Homo sapiens: one gene and its partners. The protein of the gene in region 1 purifies or fractionates together with the protein of each later gene. This does not show direct contact. Each region holds a gene or a part of one and is shown on either strand. Other genes may lie near its edges.

What was found. The genes of interacting proteins can lie anywhere in the genome.
Region 2: the proteins of NUMBL (region 1) and CBLN4 purify together in Homo sapiens (co-immunoprecipitation; one large-scale study listed by IntAct). This does not show direct contact.
Region 3: the proteins of NUMBL (region 1) and SLC10A4 fractionate together in Homo sapiens (co-fractionation; one large-scale study listed by BioGRID). This does not show direct contact.

Annotation. Positions count from the first base shown.
Region 1 is NC_000019.10:40,677,131-40,680,708, forward strand, and holds part of NUMBL (numb-like protein), read right to left. Parts: intron 292-3,578; coding exon 102-291; intron 1-101. UniProt on the Homo sapiens protein: Plays a role in the process of neurogenesis. Required throughout embryonic neurogenesis to maintain neural progenitor cells, also called radial glial cells (RGCs), by allowing their daughter cells to choose progenitor over neuronal cell fate.
Region 2 is NC_000020.11:55,999,689-56,002,597, forward strand, and holds part of CBLN4 (cerebellin-4 precursor), read right to left. Parts: intron 1,160-2,909; coding exon 1,043-1,159; intron 1-1,042. UniProt on the Homo sapiens protein: Acts as a synaptic organizer in specific subsets of neurons in the brain. Essential for the formation and maintenance of inhibitory GABAergic synapses.
Region 3 is NC_000004.12:48,486,265-48,490,026, forward strand, and holds the end of SLC10A4 (sodium/bile acid cotransporter 4), read left to right. Parts: intron 1-2,162; coding exon 2,163-2,675; 3' UTR 2,676-3,262; downstream 3,263-3,762. UniProt on the Homo sapiens protein: Transporter for bile acids.

The sequences.
Region 1 (3,578 bases):
TGTAAACTGTTGAGTCTCTGCACCTCTGCAGCTCCCTGCCCCCTGATACTGGGTACCCTGTGCCCACTCTGTGCTCTGCTGGCGCTTGGGGCAACACCCACCTTTCTTCTTGTCCGGGGCCTCTCGCTCAGCAGGCCGCCCACCCCCAGACAGGCGGAAGGAGCCCTCGCGGGCGAAGCTGGTGCGGCTGGCATCGAAGGCGGCCGTGACCCCACATTCCTTCTCCCGTCGCTGTTTTCGCTCCAGGCAGGCGGCAAAAGCACAGCCCACAGCGTGGCTCAGCCTCTCGCCCTATGGGGAGAGGATGGGCGGGGGGGTTAGAGGCGCTGGGCAGTGCGGACAGGGGCCAGGGGCACTGGGTTATAGCCGCTAGGTACTGGGTTGCCCCGGATGAGTCTCTGCACTTCTCTGGGCCTCAGTGCTCATCTGCACCACAAGGAAGGGCTGGAAATGACAGCTCCAAGTGAGAGAAGCCAGAAACCAATGAGCCTGTTGTGTGGCTCCACTTACTGGAAATTCCAGAAGAGGCAAAACTAATCTATGGTTCTATGGTGAAAAAAAGTCAGAACAGGCCAGGAGTGGTGGCTCTCGCCTGTAATCCTAGCACTTTGGGAGGCTGAGGCGGGAGGTTCCCTTGAGCCCAGGAGGTCAAGGCTGCAAGCAGCTATGATGGGGCAACTGCACTCCAGCTTGGGTGACAGAGTGAGATTCTGTCTAAAAAAAAGTCAGAATAGTGGTAGTTTCCTATGGGGTGGGGAATGACTGGAAAGTGTATGAGGGGATGACCGGGTGGTGGCAATGTTCTAGATATTGATAGGGGTTTCGTTACATGGGTGTATGCAGTTGTCGAAATTCGTTGACTGTACACCAAAGGCTTGTGCATTGCTATAGACTAAACGTGTGTGTCTCTCTCAGTTCTAACGCTGAAGCCCTCATCCACAATGTGCTGGTATTTGGAGGTGGGCCTTTGAGAGACAATAAAAGTTATGTTAGATCATGAGGTGGGGTCCTCATGATGGAATTAATGCCCTTATTTATTTATTTTTTTTCTGGGACAGGGTCTTACTCTGATGCTATGCTGGAGTGCAGCGGCATGACCTCAGCTCACTGCAACCTCCACCTCCCGGCTTCAAGCGATTCTCCTGCCTCAGCCTCTCAAGTAGCTGGGATTATAGGCATGCGCCACCACACCTGGTTAATTTGTGTATTTTTAGTAGAGATGGGATTTCATGATGTTGGTGAGGCTGGACTCGAACTCCTGACCTCGAGTGATCTGCCCACCTGGGCCTCCCAAAGTGTTGGGGTTACAGGCGTGAGCCACCATGCCCGGCCGGGATTAATGCCCTTAAAAAGGAAAAAGAGACAAGAGATCTCCCCTCCACCTTGAGAGGTGAAGATACAGAAAGCAGGCATCCATCTGCAAACCAGGAAAAGAGCCCTCACCAAGAAATGAGCCATTTGACACCCTGACCTCAGGTATCCAGCCTCTAGAACTGCGGCAAACAAATGTTTGTCATTTAAGCCACACAGTCTACACTATCTGGTTATAGCAGCCTGAACTAAGACAATCATATCTTTCGCTTTGAAGAAAAAAAAAATCTGGAAACAAATACGAATTCTACTTAATGGTGTGCATGCTGAAGTAGTCCAATGCCTACAAATTTGACATACAAAAAGAATCAGACGGTGTGACTGCAGTCGCTCACACCTGTAATCCCAGGAGGCCGAGGCAGGCAAATCACTTGAGGCCAGGAGTTCGAGACCAGCCTGGCCAACATGGTGAAACCCCATCTCTACTAAAAATACAAAAATCTGCCAGGTGTGGTGGCGTGCACCTGTAATCCCAGCTACTAGGGAGGCTGTGGCAGGAGAATCACTTGAAGGTTGGAGGCGGAGGTTTCAGTGAGCCAAGATCGTGCCACTGTACTCCAGCCTGGGGCAACAGAGCGAGACTCCGTCTCAAAAAAAGGAATGAACCACTGATACAAGCAGCTCACGCCTGTAATCCGAGCACTTTGGGAGGCCAAGGTGACTGGATCGCTTGAGTCCAGGAGTTCGAGACCAGCCTGGGCAACATGGCGAAATCCCATCTCTACAAAAAATTAGCCAGGCATGGTGGCGTGTGCCTGTAGTCCTAGCTACTCAGGAAGCTGAGGTGGGAGAATCGCTTGAACCCAGGTTGCAGTGAGGCGAGATTGCACCACTGCACACCAGCCTTGATGACAGAGAGAGACGCTGTGTCATTAAATAAATTAATTAAAAACATTGCCGGGCAGGGTGGCTCACACCTATAATCCCAGCACTTTGGGAGGCAGAGGCAGGCGGATCACCTGAGGTCGGGAGTTCAAGACCAACCTGACCTGCATGGAGAAACCCCATCTCTACTAAAAATATAAAATTAGCCAGCTGTGATGGTGCATGTCTGTAATCCCAGCTACTTGGGAGACTGAGACAGGAGAATTGCTTGAACCCGGGAGGCAGAGGTTGCAGTGAGCTGAGATTGCTCCATTGCACTCCAGCCTGGGTAACAAGAGCGAAACTCTGTTTCAAAAACAAACAAAAACACAACATTACACTAAGTAAAGAAGCCAGACACATATTATATGATTCCATTAAATGAAATATCCAGAATAGGTAAATCCACAGAGAGACAAAGCAGATTAGTGGTTGCCAGGGGGCTGGGGTAGTGGGGAGACGGGGTGAATTGATGAATGGAGATGGGGTCTCCTTTAGCGGTGATGAAAATGTTTCAGGACTGCTAAAGTCAATGGTTAAACAACACTGAAAATGTATTAAATGCCATTGAATTGTACACTTTTAAATGATTAATTTTATGTGAATTTCACCTCAAGAAAAAAAAAAAGTTGAACTTGGGGAATTCTACTGCTTAATGGTTAAAACTTCCTTCAGAAGTAGGAAGGAATTCATCCAACATCACATTCTTTACCCACAGGAGATGGTCCTGCTCTTTTCTGGCTTTCATTCTCATCCCCAAATAGTTTTTTTTTTTTGTTTTCTTGAGACAGAGTCTCGCTCTGTCACCCAGGCTGGAGTGCAGTGGTGCAGTCTTGGCTCACTGCAACCTCCGTCTCCAGGGTTCATGTGATTCTCCCCACATGTGATTCTCCTACCTCAGCCTCTGGAGTAGCTGGGATCACAGGCGCCTGCCACCATGCCTGTCTACTTTTTTTGTATTTTTAGTAGAGATGGGGTTTTACCAGGTTGGCCAGGCTGGTCTCAAATTCCTGACCTCAGGTGATCTGCCTGCCTTGGCCTCCCAAAGTGTTGGGATTACAGGCGTGAGCCACCACGCCTGGCCAATACTCTTTTTTTTTTGAGATGGAGTCTCACTCTGTCTCCCAGGCTGGAGTGCAGTGGTGCAATTTTGGCTCACTGCAACCTCCACCTCCCGGGCTCAAGTGATTCTCCTGCCTCAGCCTCCCAAGTAGCTGGGACTACAGGTGTGCACCACCACACCTAGCTAATTTTTTGTATTTCAGTAGAGATGGGGTTTTACCATGTTGTCCAGGGTGGTCTTGAACTCCTGAGCTCAGGCAATCCCCCCGCCCCAGCATCCC
Region 2 (2,909 bases), on another chromosome or scaffold:
TGATTTTAGATTTAGATTTTAAATTTTAGAGATTTCAGTGACAGATAATTAGAATCAACTCAAAACTGTATTAACTATTTTCTATTCTTCAATTTTGATTACACTGTGTCAAGCATTGCATACATTTCTAAATATTGGGGGTTGGGAAAACTTTTCCATGGAAGTAAGTTTGTTTTCTAGATTTTTTTAGGTTAAAAGTCATATGGAATAAATTAAATCTGAGGCTGATCCATTTATCCATTTACTAGGACATGTAAAAGTATTAATAGATAAGCATGTAATCTATCATTCATATTGACATAATGTATAACATAAATACTGAGCATAAGATAAAAGGTTATCTTAGAATTCCATGCACATGTATTTGTGTCATTTAGTATTAGCATACTGGAATATTGTTGGAACAAGCTCCACTGTTGCTTTTGAATGTAAGGTCAAGCCCATTGTCTTAGAAAGCAGAACACAAAATATATTAACTGTGGAACTGCAGTTGGTAAGAATTCACTAGCATCAGAGTAACTGAGGATAAACACAAGCATACGCATAGAACACCGTTTTTTAAAAATGTATTTTGAATAGTTCCTCCTTCATAGACTTATTCTTACTGATTAGCTGTATCTCATAATTTTAAAAAATAGCAAATGTGTTTTATTTATTTAGTATGCACTTGTAAAGCTGTACTAGTCTTACAAGTTTTTTTCTTATGAGTTCAAGTAATTCTTGTACATGCATTAAATGAAAGCATGATCTTACAAAGAGATTTGTGTCACTGAATTTTTACTCAACCATGGATTTTTAAAAAATGTTTGATTGTTATTAAGGTAATAACTTCAATTCTCTATTTTTCTATACGCTTTTTGTCACGTCTTAATGGATGTTAAAGAGAAAAAAATTAGAAATTAAGTGTTTTAAAATAAATGATAAAGATGGCTGCTTATTTCTATTGTGGAAACACAACTTTGGATAAGTACTTAAATATATAACCCACTAAAGATAAGCACAGTTGGTTGAGAGTATGGATGGAAGAGGTCAAAACACACACCTGGATAGTTTGGCTCTGGTAGACTTTAATCACGTGAAAACTGAAACTGTAAATTCCTTTTCTTGGTGCTACAAAGACAGACTCCAATGTGAAAAAATTACCCACATTCACCAGGATCTACAAATAAAAATAATAAATAACAATAAGTTATTATATTTTCTTCTGTAACTAAAATGAATTTTCTTCCTCTCACTCTCTTCCTCTCCTCTTCCTTCTTTCCCTCCTTCCTTCATTCCTTCCTTCCTCTTTCTTTCTTTTCTTTTTTCTTTTGTTCATTCATTCATTCTTGGCAACTAGCTTAAGAAATCATAGAAAATAAAACATCTAGTTCTGTATCTTTCCTCTTAACTGATTTGGAAAATTGACTGGAATACTGGAAGGTTCTTCTGTCTTTTAAATGATATAAGAATAAATAAAGTAACTGCTTTGTATTCATGTCTCAATTTCCAGCAAGGCCCAATGGCTCTGGAAACATCGAGCTAACATTTGAGAACTTATAAATATTAGCTTTACCTTGAGAGTTGGATAAAAGGCACCCGCTATGTGTTTACATTCCCACCTTCTACAAGCCTTTGCAATGTCCAGAGGTGACGTTTCCAAGCCAGCCAATCAGCATCTGTGAGCTCTCCGCAGCATCCCTGGACAAACCACAGAGGCATGGGTACCCCCTCCACCATGTGACATAATCCTTGACACTGAACAGTTGGTGCACAAAGTGATCTGAATGCCTGGCCCTTCTCTGAGCCACCACCACCCCTCTCCTAAGATCTGTTACCATTTTTTTTTTCATTCCTGTGCCAGCTAGGCCTTAATTATAATAATGTGGCAATGAGTCAGCCCTTGTGGGCTGCCAAAGAGGAGAGCATAGAGAAGGCTAAACTATGAAATAGGTGGCTTTCCCTGTTCCTCCCCGGGCTGTCCATTAACCTCCTATCAATCACCTGCTCTTTATTTGAAGTTCAAGGTTCAAAAGTGAAATTAGATACTGTTTCCCAAGAAAGCAACAATGCATTTTGTATTCCAAAATATTCAGCCTAGTTCTATTGGTTATAAAATTAACTCTAAATTTTAATAAGTGACCTCTTAAGCTAAATTTGCAATGTCACATGGGTAAGTCTCTTTCTATGAGAAAGAGGGATTGGGATGGAGGATGGATGTTAAAATAACCAGGGTTTGTTCCATTTCTTTCCAAGAAATACACCTGTAAGTGGCATTCAAAAATAATAAGAGGTCCCTAAAAAGATATACTTCTCATATATCAATGGCAATCTGCTACTATCTCTTTCGAACACTGCATTCTTGCCAATATTAACACACTTGCAAGCCTCTTGCATAATTCCCTAAAAATGTACTATTACCTCTGGGCAACATACCAGAATGTAGTGACAGTCAAGCAGATGTATCAGGCTCAACACCTAACTTAAAACACATGTACGTGTATAATTTCATTCTGAGATTTCGCCTTCTTCCAAGTAAGCATCAGATTTTTTTTGTAACCTGATGATAGATGGTCTTTCAACAAGTCACCAGCTGTGCAATAATCCCCAGCAGAGGCTTTACAAAGAAATTTTTCAAGCACAATTAAAATAATTTGAGGTGCTTAGTGGTGACTTCCTGATTCAGATACAAGTAGCATAATTCATTAGCAATAATGAAAATAGCTGATTAGTGTTGGCTACATATAAAACTGGATGTTGACTCTACACTGTAATTGGAGCATCCAGGTACATCGAGATTTATAACCAAATGTGTGTTCTTGTCTCTAAGATGCAAGGCTCACTGAAAAGAAGAACAAACCCTTTTCCTCTTCTAATTGATGGAAAGGTCATTGAAAGGAACACCCTGTATAGAGGATAGTGCAATGCCC
Region 3 (3,762 bases), on another chromosome or scaffold:
CCATAATACACATGTATATGTGAATGTAAAAATGTATGTGTACATGTAAATATGCATATATTAATACCTGTAATATATACTCATAGATACTCTTGAGATGCATTAAGAACTTGTTAATCTTAATCATTAAGCTAATGCTATTAATGTGATGGCATTTACTATAAAACCTTAGGAAGTCTAAGAGAAAGTCAATCAAATGACCTATTTACACACCCAAAACAAGAAATATATTTAAAATAAATATATTAATAAATTAATATATTTAATATTTAAATATAATAGACATAAGATTAGCTACCTTTGAATTTAAGGTTAACCTAGCCCTATTCTTTAATTAACACACTATTAAGAAACGGTTTATATAATTGTTACACCTTTGCAAACACTTCAAAATGAGCATTCAATGTCAATGCTTGCCCAAATGATTTAAAATAGTTCTAAGGGACTTTGGAGCCAATATTTCAAAATGAAGAAATCAGACTGTTTGTCAGCGCTTTCAATGTGACATACTTTGAAATGGTATGCTTTTACATGTAATAGCCTGGTTTCTGCCAATTATGCATCTGTAGTATCTGTACCTTATATAATAATTATTGCAGCATCCTCTAGGGTAGAATTTGTGACCAGCTCAGATAAATTTTAAATAATTTTTTAAGAGTGTAGAGTTACGCCATTCCCGAAGACTGCAAAAGGGATATCCCAGCTATCCAGGGAACCAGAAGCAACATTTAAGCTGTTCTCTCTGGCTCTAGTTTCCTTTCCCTGCCCACTCCTCATTAAAAAAAAATAAGTTAACTACCAATATGAAGGAGAACGAGGAGAGGAATTTTTAGATTTCCGCCTTACAATTCATACAGACTGTTTTATTTGAATGAGTGAAATGTACCAGTCAGAACATCAAGATGACACGTTTTATACAGAAGTCAGTTGTACTGTATCCGAAATCCATCTATTGTAATAATACGTAAGCATCATTACAGACTTATAGATGGGAGGTTTCTCATGAACAAATAAAAAAGGGGAAAGTTGCCAAATTGCAAAGAATTCTTCACATATTTATTTACATTTTTCTCTCTTACATAATCTAAGAGTAGGTAATTGTTTCAATATTGCAAGCAATCCTCTGCAGTATATTTTGAGGGTTAAAAAGATCACACACTGAGCTTCAGACATTTTAATCAAGTTTCACAAGTTTTAACTCATGTAAAATGAGAACTAATTTCTTATGGAAAACACGGGGTTCAGTTCAGGGAAAGTAAACATCCACTTGTCTGCTCTGATGATCAGACCATACCTGGGGTATTAGGTTCAGTTCTAAATGCCCTGTTTTTAAGAGGCACATTCACATATGAAACACATTCTCAGAACAGTCAGGATACCAAAACAAAGTTATGTGATGGAGGTTTAAGTTTGGGGATGATCTGCCTGAAGAAGAGTAGCCTTCCCCTGATAACCAGTTTTTAAGCTTTTGAAGAGCTGTTTTTCAGGAAAAAAGCTTTTGAAGGCTATTTTTTTTTGAAGAGCTTTTTTTTTTTTTTTTTTTTTTTTTTTTTTTGGTGAAATGGAGTGTTGCTCTGTCACCCAGGCTGGAGTGCAGTGGCGCGATCTCTGCTCACTGCAACCTCCACCTCCCAGGTTCAAGCAATTCTCTGCCTCAGCATCCCGAGTAGCTGGGATTACAGGCATTCACCATCACACCTGGCTAATTTTTGTATTTTTAGTAGAGACAGTGTTTCACCATCTTGGCCAGCCTGGTCTTCAACTCCTGACCTCATGATCCACCCACCTTAGCCTCCCAAAGTGCTGGGATTACAGGTGTGAGCCACCGCGCCTGGCCAGAAAAGCTGGGTTTTTTTGTTTGTTTTTTGTTTTTGAAGAGCTGGTCTCTGTCGCTCCTGAGAGCCTATATCCAACTCAATGGCTAGAGGTTATAGAAGGCAAATTGTCCCTGGACATAAGGACAGGCCTCCAAACAATCAGAGCTGCCCAATGTGGCTCTGGATGCTTCCTGAAGAGGTGGCCTGCCCATCTTCAGAAATATTCTGTCAAAGGTCTCCATTTTGTGTTGGAGAGCATACTAGATGGGTGTTTTCTTCCGTGAGCTTAGGATTCTCTCGCCTGAGTTCATCTTCAACCATCTCATTGTAATTTTCTATTACTAGGTTTCCCTGTGGTCTCTGCTAGTGACTCTGGTGGTCCTTTTCATAATGACCGGCACTATGTTAGGACCTGAACTGCTGGCAAGTATCCCTGCAGCTGTTTATGTGATAGCAATTTTTATGCCTTTGGCAGGCTACGCTTCAGGTTATGGTTTAGCTACTCTCTTCCATCTTCCACCCAACTGCAAGAGGACTGTATGTCTGGAAACAGGTAGTCAGAATGTGCAGCTCTGTACAGCCATTCTAAAACTGGCCTTTCCACCGCAATTCATAGGAAGCATGTACATGTTTCCTTTGCTGTATGCACTTTTCCAGTCTGCAGAAGCGGGGATTTTTGTTTTAATCTATAAAATGTATGGAAGTGAAATGTTGCACAAGCGAGATCCTCTAGATGAAGATGAAGATACAGATATTTCTTATAAAAAACTAAAAGAAGAGGAAATGGCAGACACTTCCTATGGCACAGTGAAAGCAGAAAATATAATAATGATGGAAACCGCTCAGACTTCTCTCTAAATGTGGAGATACACAGGAGCTTCTATCTTGCTGAAATATTGCTTCATATTTATAGCCTGTGGTAGTGCACATGGTTAACATAAAAGATAACACTGGTTCACATCATACATGTAACAATTCTGATCTTTTTAAGGTTCACTGGTGTATTAACCAAACGTTGTCACAAATTACAAATCAATGCTGTAATATAATTTGCACCTGGAATGGCTAACGTGAAGCCTGAATTAAATGTGGTTTTTAGTTTTTACCATCACCAATTTCTATGACTGTTGCAAATACAGAATCTATTAGAAAACAGGGTCTTGGAAATGTAGAATTTTGGCGCACTATGAGGAAAAACAAGCTATCTTTGTAAAGCATAATTGAGTTTAATGTAATTGTTGTAAAAAAAAAAGTGTGCTTGCTCTACTTAAAATTCCTCACAATGTTGAATTTTGACCTGTATTCAGAAGAATTCCAAAACAGGTCAGTTAAATAAGGAAATATAGTATTTGTCAAACCAGTATCAGAGAAAAGTTACATTAATGTATTTGATTACTTGATCTGGTATCTACTTATTAATGAATAATCAACATTTTTCTAGTGGACAAGCCATGTTCTTTTCGACTGGTCTTCTGCATTTATGTAAACACACCCCAAATCAATTTATCTTTTGTAGGAATGATTTGGTTGGGAAATTTTTCAGAACCGCTCTGGAGCAGAACAAAACGGTACCTCCCGGTCACCACTGGGACTGGGGGAAGGGACACGCTCCAGGGGAGAAAACAATTCGCCTAGATGAAGATCCCTGGGTGGTTCTCCATGCACTCGCCGAGGGGGCTCAGTGGGTAGCCTCTTAGAGCAGCTCTGAGAATAAACTTATCATCTGAGTTAACGGGTAATAGACCCAGAACAGTTCCCAAACCTTGGCACTTTCGCTCACTTAGCCAGAGGCACCCGGCCTGGCCTCGGCTTCCCGGTGAGGGAGCGGGGGTGGGGGGGATGCGCAGGCACCTGGAACAATCAGGGCACCGGGAGAAGCCGGCTCAGCTGATGCCGGTGATGAGTTTCTCTCATTGAAATCCTCCTCACCTCGGGCGCCTTGGTT